2 separate regions of the Homo sapiens genome follow, and region 2 is linked to region 1. Evidence: fine-mapped expression QTL. A gene starts in region 1. The other region holds a variant in brackets. All regions are shown on one strand. Distances are between the middles of the regions. Region 1 holds the start of KIFC2 (kinesin family member C2). Region 2 overlaps ARHGAP39 (Rho GTPase activating protein 39).

Evidence for each region. PIP is the estimated chance that this variant, and not a neighbour inherited with it, causes the effect.
Region 2: its variant is the best candidate, but not a certain one, in a credible set for the expression of KIFC2 in whole blood (TOPMed, PIP 0.51).

What each region holds. Positions count from the first base shown.
Region 1 is chr8:144,463,654-144,469,010 of GRCh38, forward strand. It overlaps KIFC2 (kinesin family member C2), which reads left to right and starts at 2,684. Exons shown (of 18, transcript NM_001369769.2): 1 at 2,684-2,865; 2 at 3,107-3,185; 3 at 3,306-3,457; 4 at 3,550-3,688; 5 at 3,832-3,977; 6 at 4,061-4,126; 7 at 4,206-4,334; 8 at 4,676-4,753; 9 at 4,883-4,997; 10 at 5,072-5,181. The coding sequence starts at 2,767. TMEM276-ZFTRAF1 (TMEM276-ZFTRAF1 readthrough) reads right to left here and starts at 2,048. Exons shown (of 5, transcript NM_001408018.1): 1 at 1,918-2,048; 2 at 1,156-1,443. The coding sequence starts at 1,248. TMEM276 (transmembrane protein 276) reads right to left here and starts at 1,839. Exons shown (of 3, transcript NM_032687.4): 1 at 1,700-1,839; 2 at 1,156-1,443; 3 at 172-959. The coding sequence starts at 1,248. The coding sequence ends at 474. RefSeq lists enhancers at 1-144, 239-852, 3,051-3,887, 3,578-3,677 and silencers at 1,558-1,787, 1,838-2,097, 2,168-2,297, 2,358-2,917, 2,968-3,277 and 1 more.
Region 2 is chr8:144,671,491-144,676,847 of GRCh38, forward strand. All of the region lies in intron 1 of ARHGAP39 (Rho GTPase activating protein 39), which reads right to left. Among named protein-coding and RNA genes, the nearest start is that of ARHGAP39, 12 kb to the right of the region's middle. RefSeq lists an enhancer at 2,376-2,875. The variant G/A (reference allele first, on the strand shown) is at 2,645.

The sequences.
Region 1 (5,357 bases):
TTCTCAGCCCAGGGGTCTTCCTGACAATAGTCAAAAGGAGGCCGGGCTGCATGAGACCCCATCCTAGTTCCAGCACATACCCTGTCAGGGTAACTGACTACTGTCCTGAGGGGCCTTAGGAAGCTCACTGAAAGATCCCTCAATCCCTCTCAAAAATGGGCAGTTTTCATATTCCTGCAAAATTCCTAAGATTTATTGGAGACTAGGCCTCTTCTCTGGATCCACAACCGTGTCCAGCCCAGAATCAGGACCCCCAAACGTGTCTGGGACCCTGTCCCTTTCATTCTGGTCTAGACAAGTCCCCACACGTGGCCAAAGGACAGCACCCAGACTCTGCCCCTGACCAGTCAATGTGCAGCAAACCCACTTCAGTAGGCAGAAGAGTCTACCCCTAGGGAGAAGGCGCCAGGAGCAGGCAGGTGGGAGGGAAAGTGTTCGGCAGGGCAGAAACCCTGCCTGGCTGTATCCAACTGTCACTCCCACTGGAGGCGCTGTGTATGCAGGGCCCGGCAGTAAGCCCAGCTGCCTACAGCCAAGGCCCAGCGACAGACATCCTCCTTCGGTAGCAGCAGCAGCCTGTCCTCCTCCAGCCGGCTCAGGAGGCCTGCCACACCCAGCATCGCCCCCCCCCACATCCCATAAGTGTTGGCCGTGAAGACAGCTACAATGAGGATGGTCACTGCGACCACCAACAGCATTGCCTGACCAGCCACAGAGCGGCCCTCAGGGCCGAGGTGGCCGCCAGCCACTGCCAGCACCATGCCTCCTCCCAGGAGCAGGTTGGCAGAGGAGCGGTCCCCATTCACCCAGTGGAAATCGAAGGCCAGAAGGGGAAGGCCGATGACGGTGGCCACCCAGGCTCCAGCAAGGCAGTCTTCGTGTGTGCTCAGCCCTGGGGCCAGCGTGGTGGTGGCAGCCAAGACCTGGAGCAGGAAGCCAGCAGCAGCCCCTCGACTTGCCTGTCAACACAGGGAAGGGAGAACACGTGGGAAAAAGAGGCCGGGGTCACCCTTTTAAACAGGAAAGGGTTTGGGGCTTCCATGGAGACCTGGTCTTAGACGCACTTCCCACCAACCTCTCTCTAATTCAGGAAACTAGGTCCTTGGGGTTTGGGAGGTATGGGGATGCGCCCCTGCTCAGCCCCAGTGTACTCACCTCGGCTGTGCTCACGGCTGCGTGCAGAGACACCACTCCCAGCACCAGATGGGACAGGGCTGTGCTCCACTCGGCCCCCGGCTTGGGGGCCATGGCACCTCAGGCGGCAGTATGTACGAGGACACAGATAGGAGATACTCAACTTTGGAGAGGAAGGAAGCGCAGAAGCCAGCGACCTGGAGCCCTACGCGCGGCACTCTAGTAAGCCCAGGTTCCAGGTCCCCATTACTGGATGTTAGGAGAAGTTCAGTCCTAGACTTTCCGGATCCCTGAGGCCACTGCACACACCTGTGGAGAAGAAGAACCTAATTCAGCCGGGAAACGGGGGAAAACGACTCAGGGTCTAAGCTGGGGGGAACGTCAGCCCTGGGGCCCTGGAGCCCAAGTGGGAGTGCGGGCCTGGGGAAGAGAGAGCGGCGAGGCGCTGCAGGCCCACGCGGCGGCCTCGGCCTGCTCCCTGCGTTCCGGGAGGCGTTGTCCTGGGAACCCGGGTCCAGGAGGAGCGACGGCGCAGGACTCCGGGAGGCCAGCCGTGCGCAGTTACCGGGCTGCGCGGTCCCAACGCAGCGGCGAGCGGGAGGCCCGAGCCTGCGCAACGCACCGCCCACCGCCGTCGGCCCTGCCTCCTCTGCCGTGCCCCCAGTTGCGGGAGCGAGCGCGGTCGGGAACCTCCACCAGCGAGAGGAGCGGAGGCTAGAGCGGCCGGGCGGGGCTAGAGCGGCTGGGGGGGGAGGGTCGAGGCCTGGGGGAGAGGGTCGAGACCTGGGGGGGGCCGGTTGGAGGCCGTAGGAGCGGGTGGGGTCGGGAGGAGCTCGGGGACCAGAAAACGCTCTGTTTGGGTGGGTGCGTGCGTGGGCATAGTGGTTTGGAAGGAGCGTGATGAGGGGAGAAGGGCCGGGGCGGGGCTGCGAGGGGCGGGGTCTGGGCGGGGCTGCGAGGGGCGGGGGGTCTGGGCGGGGCTGAGGGAGATAAGGTTTAGGCGGGGCTGAGAGCGGCGGGTCTGAGAGGGAGGGGGCCTGGGTGGGGCGGGGCCTGGGCGAGGATGCGATGGGGGGGTCTGGGCGTGGCTGCGAGGGGCGGGGCCTGGGCGGGGCTGCGAGGAGAGGGGTCTGGGCGAGACTGAGAGGGACCGAGAGGGGAGGAGCCTGGGCGAGGCTGCAAGGAACGGGGTTTGGGCGGGGCTGCGAGGAGGGGGGGTCTGGGCGGGGCTGAGATGGGCGGGGCTGAGATGGGCGGGGCTGTAGGGAGAGGAAGGAGAACCCCGGCGTGTTGAAGGCTCCGCGAAACCGGAGCGGTGGGGGACTACGCGGAGGGTGGGAGGGATTCCGAGAGGAGGGTCGCGGGAGCCGTGGGCGCTCTCAGCCCGGTGTCCGCGGTGTAGGGGTTGGGGCGCGCCGGGCGGCGCCGTGAGAAACGGCGGGTCTCCAGGTGCGGCCGCGGGCACCTGTTTCTAGTACCCCCGTCCCCGCGCTCGCCTTCCAGCCGTGGGAGCCGGGCCGTGGGGGCGGCCGTCGCGAGCATGCGCACCGGCACTGCGGCGGGCGGGCGCCGAGTCTGGGCGCGGGGACGCGGGGCGGCGCGAAGCGGGGCCCTCTGCCGCCCCGCGCTCCCATGTACGCCTTTTACTCGTTGCTCATCTACATCTTCTACAGCCTCTTCCGCAGGGATGGTGGCGCCGCGGCGGCCGCGGAGCCCGGGGACCCCGCCCAGGTGAGCGGGGCTGGCCGTGCAGCCCGTCGTCTCCCGCCGCCTGCCCCACCCCCACGCCGAGGTTCCCGGGGCGGGGGCGGGCACGGGGCGCGGGGCGACGGGGCCGTGCCGAGGACCCTCGGCTCGGCCCCGATGCTGGAAGCGTAGACTTCGGCCCCAATCCTCCGGCCCGGTTCGCGGAGGGAAGGGGCCAGCAGGCTGCCTGCCCCCCTCCTCAGGGGCGCCCCTGCCCCCTCCCTAGAGAGCCCGCAAGCCCCGGGGTCGCCGGCGCCCAGACCTGCCCGCGCCAGAGCTGTGGACCGAGCTGACCGGCCTGGCCGGTAGGTGCGGGCTGGGAGTCCCGCGGTGCGAGGGCGGTGCCGGGACCTCCCAGGGAGGGGCGGAGGCCTGGCTCAAGCACGTGACCCGAAATGTCTCCCGCCCTCCTCCCTGACCGGCAGCCAGCTCCGAGCCTGAGGATGGGTCGGAAGGCGCAGCCGAGGGCCGCGCGGCCGCGGTGTCCCTGGAAGAGGCCCTACTGCGCCTCGCCGAGTTCCTCTCCGTCCAGCTGGGGGCGGAAGAGAGCTGCGGGGGCCCGGCGGACCTGGGCCAGGTGAGCGCGGCGGAGGGGGCTGCTGGCAGGTACCACCTGCCCCGGCCTTCCTGGCTTTCACAGCCCTGCTCGGATTCTTGTCTCCTTCGCAGTCTGGCGAGGTCCCCTCACTGTTGACAGTGACCAGTCAGCTCTTGGCCCTTCTGGCATGGCTTCGAAGCCCCAGGGGGAGGCAGGCCCTGCTCCAGGGGACTCAGCCAGCCCCTCGGGTCCGGCCCCCCTCTCCAGATGGTGAGTAAAGGACAGTAAGTTGAAGAAGAACTCTGGAGGGAGCAAATCCCGGTAGAACCTGGGCGGCCTGGAGTTCGGGGTCATGTTCCGGAAGATTTGGACTAGAGACCTCTTCAGTGCTAACTGGGCCCACCCTACTCCAGGATCCACATCCCAAGAAGAAAGCCCTTCCCACTTCACCGCAGTCCCAGGCGAGCCACTGGGGGATGAGACCCAGGGACAGCAGCCCCTCCAGTTGGAGGAGGATCAGAGGGCGTGGCAGCGGCTGGAGCAGCTCATCCTGGGACAGGTGAGGTCCCTGGAGCCAGAAGGGATTGCCGGCTGGGACGCCAGAAAAAGGAGGTCCACCCTGTCTCTCTTACTTCTCCCCAGCTGGAGGAGCTGAAGCAGCAGCTGGAACAGCAGGAGGAGGAGTTGGGTCGACTGCGCCTGGGCGTGGTGAGGCTGCAGGGAGACCTGGCAGGGCCGGGCATGGAGGGGGTGCTTCAGGTGAGTGCCGAGGTTTCCTCTCCACCAGGGGGCGACGGACTCAGAGAAAAGGGTTCAGCATCTGACTCTGGAGAACGAGGCCCTGAAGCAGAGCCTGAGTCTCATGCGGGACCTCCTGCTGCACTGGGGCCCCGGGCCCCCCATCAGGGCTCCGCAGGTACTCTGCTCCCGAGCTGCAGCCGTTCCTGCAGCCTGGGGCTCTTGCACACCTGGCATGCAGCCACAGGGCCCGAGCCTCCTCAGGACCTCCCGGGATGGTCTGTGTAGGGCAGCCCCATCAGGGAGGCTGATGCCAATGGGAAGACCCCCCTCTCCGTGGCCCCTCTGAGTGGCTGACCCCAGGAGAGCAGAGGGACTGTGGGAAGGAGGTCTGCGTGGAGCTGGGAGGCATGGGTTCACAGCCAGCTCTGCCCACCTCTTGACTTGACTTTCCCATCTGTGAAATGGTACCACAGACCGTCCCTCTCTGAGTCCCTCCTGGCCCCCACCCTCCCGCAGGAGGAGGCAGAGGCATTGCTAGAGCTCCAGGGCCGGCTTCAGGAGGCCCAAGACACCACAGAAGCCCTCCGAGCCCAGGTGGGCATGGGGCCCAGGGATCCATGGCTCAGGGGTGAGGCGGGCTGGGGTTTTGGGAGGGGCTTATCTGAGGCAGGGCCTGGTAAGTGCCTGTTTCCTCAGTGACAGGGGTGGGGTTGGGCGGGGCAGCTGGGGGTGCAGGAGGTGCAGCTGCAGGGCCTTCAAGGGGCCCTCCAGCAGCTCCAGCAGGAGACGGAGCAGAACTGCAGGCGTGAGCTACAGCAGATGCATGGGCAGCTGGCAGGTAAGGGTTGGGGTTGGGGCTCATGGGAGGCCCTGGAGGCTGGGCCTTCCCTTCCAACAGACTTCCCTCTCCAGGACTTCGGGCACGGATGGCCAGCCTGCGTCAGGGCTGCGGGGACCTCCGAGGTTTGGTCAGCACCTTTACCCAGAGCTGTCAGGGTTCGCTGAGTGAGGCCCGGGGCCAGGTCAGGACCCCTCCCCGCCTAGCCCCTCCTCTCTGGGCAGCCTATTCACTGTTCTTTTGACGGGGGCGTTCCTGGGGAGTTGGCTGTACTAATAAGTGGGGCTCTGGAACCCAAACAGCTTCTGTGTGACCCAGGGTGGGATTCCACTTCTGGGCCTTATTTTAATTCTATGCATA
Region 2 (5,357 bases), 210 kb after region 1:
ACCCTCCCACCTGCTCCCTGACCCCCAGATGCCTGCTCACCTGGGCTCTCGCCAACACTCCAGTCACAGAGCTGCCGGCTCCGGCCACACATCCCTCCCGCCTGAGGCTCTTTCTGTGCCTGGTGAATAGCCCAAGGCTCAGCTGCTGATACTCCTCCTTTCCAGACAAGACACCCCTTCTCCAGAAAGCCTACCTGAACTCCACGCCCCTCCCGGCCAGCCACCCTAGGGTTCTCCCTACGACCCCAGGCACACGGCCACCTCTGCTGTCCACAGGATGTTAGCACAACTCACTCCCGTGTCCCCCACCAGAGGCCTGGTCTGTCTCCTCCCTGTCGGGGGTATCTGACTGGCAAGTGGCTGGCACATACAGGCAACAGTAAAGACAGGGGCGAGATGAGTGTGGGTGGGCCTGGCAAACACAAGACCAGGTGTGAGAGCCCTGCCAGAGCAATGGAGACAGGCTCCGCCCAAGTGAGGCTCATCCTGGGCCCCAGTGGCCTTGGGCAGAAAGCCCCACACTGTTCCTGGACGCCGTCTGTGATTCCGGCACATGCTGTAAACGAGGGTCTCAGGGACGTCACAGCACTACCCCCTCCCACATGTGGGAATTTCCACAGCACGCCTGAATTCTGAATAGAAAATAAAAGGTCAACACAGCCGCAATTAAATAGAAACAGCACCTAGAGTTTCAGAAGCTGCTCCCCTTTATCAGCCACACATGCAGCAGGCAGTCAGATTCCGGGGAAACTTACACTGCAGAGGCTTCAGCACAGCTCTGAGTGGCAGGAGGAACATGCTGGCCACCTCTGTGATCCCAGGGAATGCTTGAAGGGACCGTAACAGAAAACCACTAGGAGTATCTCAAGGCTAACAGTAAACTCAACCCATGAAGGAAGCATCAGCCACTCTGTCAGGATAGTGTTGGGGCCTCTAGTAGTTTAAAGTAATAATCAAGAGAAAAGGCAGGAAAGATGAAAGGAGCATGGCAAGAAAGGAAAATAGACTCAAACACTGTTGGCCAGACAAGGGGTTCTGGACCCTGTGTCCAGCACCCTGGCTGCCAGGAGCTGGGGAGACAGCAGTGCTCCCACGCCTCACATCTGTCTACACCACCATCAACTGTGCTCTGTGTGCGCCTAGACCAGCCTGCAAGAGGCTGGTTCATCAGCCTCTTAGTGTTGATATTAATTTTTAAAACTCCTATTATACACAAATAACAGTAATTTACAGAACCCACTGAGACTCAGCCATTCTTCAGCTTCACAACAACCTTGAACAAATAAGCAGGACAAGCATCTTATCTGCAGATAAGAGCTCGAGTGCTTAACTGACTTATCTGTGCTCAATCACACAGGCAGCGATTAAGTCAATGTTTAACTCAAGTCTTCTGCACGGAGACCAGTGTAGCATCGCTACCACCTGAAATTTGACGCTGATCAGGGGCCAGGCACAGTGGTTCATGCCTGTAATCCCAGCACTTTGGGAGGCAGAAGCGGGAGGATCACTTGAGCCCAAGAGTTCAAAACCAGTCTGGGTAACAGGGTGAAATCCTGCCTCTACAAAAATTACAAAAATTAGCTGGGCATGGTGACATGCACCTATTGTTCCAGCTACTTGGGAGGCTGAGGCAGGAGGATCGCTTGAGCCCAGGAGGTCAAAGATACAGTGAGCAGATATCATGCCACTGCCCCCTAGCCTGGGTGATAGATTGAGAACCTGTCTCAAAAAAAAAAAGAGGAAGAAAGAAAAGAAACTGATCAGGGACTCATCGCCTTGCCACAGCCCCCAAGAACACACCCGCACCAAGGCCCTCTGCGGGCATGCAGCCTTCTGACTCTCACCTTGGAATGTTCTCTTCTGAAAAATCCTAGTCACTCCTGTTTTTAACAGCTTCATTGAGATAGAATTCACATTACATACAATTCACCCAATTAAAGTATATGATTTTAGGTTATTTTTAGTATATTCACAGATATGTGCAACCTTCACCACAGTCAATTTTAGAATATTTTCATTATGCTAAAAGAAATTCCATACCTCTTGGCTGTCATCCCCTAGCCCTTGGCAACCACTAATCTACTTTCTATCTCTACAGATTCACTTCTTCTGGACACTTCACATAAACGGAATTGTCATGAGATCCTTGGGGTGTCGCTTCACCAGCCAGAAACCGCTGTGGCCAGTGGTGCCTTCTGCCTGAGTATTGCTCATGCCCACTGGGATTGTTCCGCCCACTCAGGCCGGCAGACTGCTCTCAGCTCACACTACCGGCCCAGATCCCACACCTGCCAAGTGCAAGCCAGGTGCAAAGTGGCAAGGGGTGTGTGGGCAAGCAAGCGCAGGGTCAGGCCACCGTGCATAGCCAGGCATGCCAGCTGCAGCGGGGCAGGCTGCTCCAGGTGCCAGCTCTGTGCGAGGCTGCGGCTTGACCAGATGTACTGCATGTGGCTTCCACTGTGGGCACCTGCATCTGGATGAGGGGAATGCAGTGGCATCCAGAAGCTTGGAGATGCCAGGAACCACAGAACCCCAAAGAGGGTGTCACAGCCCTGGCTCGAGGAGACCCTAGGTCTGGGCTCCCCAAAGTGCTGCAGCTCTTCTCTCCTTTTCATTACCTGCAACGTGGTGAGTGGTGGGGGGC[G/A]GTGGTCGGGGGGAGTGTGTGTTTCAGCCCTGTTTGTGTTGCAGCTCATTTAGTCCCGCCATTCAGCAGGTCCCAAGTTCCTGTCACATGTCCAGGTAGAATGAGGTACGTGAACAACTGGAGAGTGAGCGAGGTGGAGAGGAGCTTCACTGTGCGACAGAACAGCTCTTGGGAGACCCACAGTGGGTAGCTCCTTTCCGCATACGGGTTGTCTTGACGACTGTTCAGGTCTCAGCAGAGAGGAGACTCGGACTGGTTAGCTCCTATCCTATCTGCAGGCAGGCTGTCCTGTTGTTTGCCTGAGTCTGGCTGAGTCCAGGGTTTTTATGGGCTTCAGAGGGGAGAAAGTATGTGCTGAATGGTTCACGGGTGGCCATGGGCAGGCCCAGAAAAAGCACCATAAACTCTTACTCTGGTCCATGGAACTGGCAGCCCAGCCCCCAGGCTTCAGGCTGTCCCTGACTTGAACATGGGGCTTCATCAGGGACCTGCCCCTTTTCACCCAGGAGCCTGTCTGCCTCCTGCTACCATCAACCTGCCGTCCATGGTGCCCAGGCTATTTGTGCTGAGGGGCTCCTGCAGGCCTGCACCAAGCTGCCCTCAGCCCCTCCTCGGGCTCCCTCCTGTGCTCGCTCGTCGGCACCCAAAGTCCGAAGGCGGCCGAGAAGGCAGGGGGCTGGCATGTCAGTTTTGCCCCAAGTGCATGTACACCTGGCCAGGTTGCAACAGTGCCTGGGCTCAGCCTCAACTTTGTTCCAAAATTGACGTGGGGACCAGGAGCAGGGAGAGGCCAGGTAGCGGGAGGAGGCTGGCCTGCTTCTGAGTCTGCAGGGGAAGGGGGGCTTCCTGAGTCCCCGAGAGAGCAGGGATGTCTGGGTCCATAGCCACAGCTAGGCAGCTGCAGCTGTGCCCAGGAGGGCCAGGCTCCCACCCCTCCAACTTGGAAGGGGGTGCAGCTCCTGCCTGTTCCCAGTTCCCACCAGCTCCATGGACCATGCAGCCCCAAGCCTCCCCAGCTGCAACCAGCGTCATGGCAGCAGCCACTCCAGACAAGCCACCAATGCCATTAGAATCATACAGTATGTCTCCAGCTTCTTTCACTTAGCATTTTTTTTTTGAGACAGAGTCTTACTCTGTCACCAGGCTACAGAGCAGTGGCATGATCTCGGCTAACTGCAACCTCTGCCTCCCGGTACGCCACTGTGTCCAGAATTGGTGGGTTCTTGGTCTTGCTGACTTCAAGAACGAAGCCGCGGACCCTCGCGGTGAGTGTTACAGCTCTTAAAGATGGTGTGTCCGGAGTTTGTTCCTTCTGGTGGGCTCGTGGTCTTGCTGACTTCAGGAGTGAAACTGCAGACCTTCGTGGTTAGTGTTACAGCTCTTAAAGATGGTGCGTCTGGAGTTGTTCATTCCTTCCGGTGGGTTTGTGGTCTCGCTGGCCTCAGGAGTGAAGCTGCAGACCTTTGTGGTTAGTGTTACAGCTCTTAAAGGCAGTGCATCTGGAGTTGTTCGTTCCTGCCGGTGGGTTCGTGGTCTTCCTGGCTTCAGGAGTGAAACTGCAGACCTTCGTGGTTAGTGTTACAGCTCTTAAAGACGGTGCGTCTGGAGTTGTTCATTCCTTCCGGTGGGTTCGTGGTCTCGCTGGCCTCAGGAGTGAAGCTGCAGACCTTCGTGGTTAGTATTACAGTTCTTAAAGGCAGTGCATCTGGAGTTGTTCGTTCCCTCCGGTGGGTTCGTGGTCTTCCTGGCTTCAGGAGTGAAGCTGCAGACCTTCGCGGTGAGTGTTACGGTTCATGAAGATAGCATGTCCAGAGTTGTTCCTTCCTCCCGTCAGGAGTTGTTCTTCCCTCCCAGTGGGTTCATGGTCTCGCTGGCTTCAGGAGTGAAGCTGCAGACCTTCTCGGTGAGTGTCACAGCTCATAAAGGCGGCGCGGACCCAAAGAGTGAGCACCAGCAAGATTTAGTGCGAAGAGCAAAAGAACAAAGCTTCCACAGCATGGAAGGGGACCCCAGCGTGTTGCCGCTGCTGGCTTGGGTGGCCTGCTTTTATTCCCTTATCTGGCTCCACCCACCTCCCACCGATTGGTCCATTTTACACAGAGCTGATTGGTCCGTTTTGACAGGGTGCTGATTAGTATGTTTACAAACCTTCAGCTAAACACAGAGTGCTGATTGGTGCATTTACAATACTTTAGCTAGACACAAAAGTTCTCCAAGTCCCCACTAGATTAGCTAGACACAGAGCACTGATTGGTGCGTTTACAAACCTTGAGCTAGACACGGGTGCTGCTGACTGGTGCGTTTACAAACCTTGAGCTAGACACACGTGCTGCTGACTGGTGCGTTTACAAACCTTGAGCTAGACACACAGTGCTGATTGGTGCGTTTACAAACCTTTAGCTAGACACAGACTGCTGATTGGTGTGTTTACAAACCTTTAGCTAGACAGAAAAGTTCTCCAAGTCCCCACCCGACCCAGAAGCCCAGCCGGCTTCACCTCTCAATGGTGGGACTTCACGGCACCTAGCCCGGGCACTCCGGCAGCCCAGAGGAAGCTCGTCCCAGATCAAGCCCAGCAGGCGCCAGCCACAGCACCGGCTCCCGCCCACGCCTCTCCCTCCACACCTCTCTGCGAGCAGAGGGAGCCGGCTCTGGCCTCGGCCAGCCCCAGAGAGAGGCCCCCACAGCGCAGCAGCTGGCTGAAGGGCTCCTC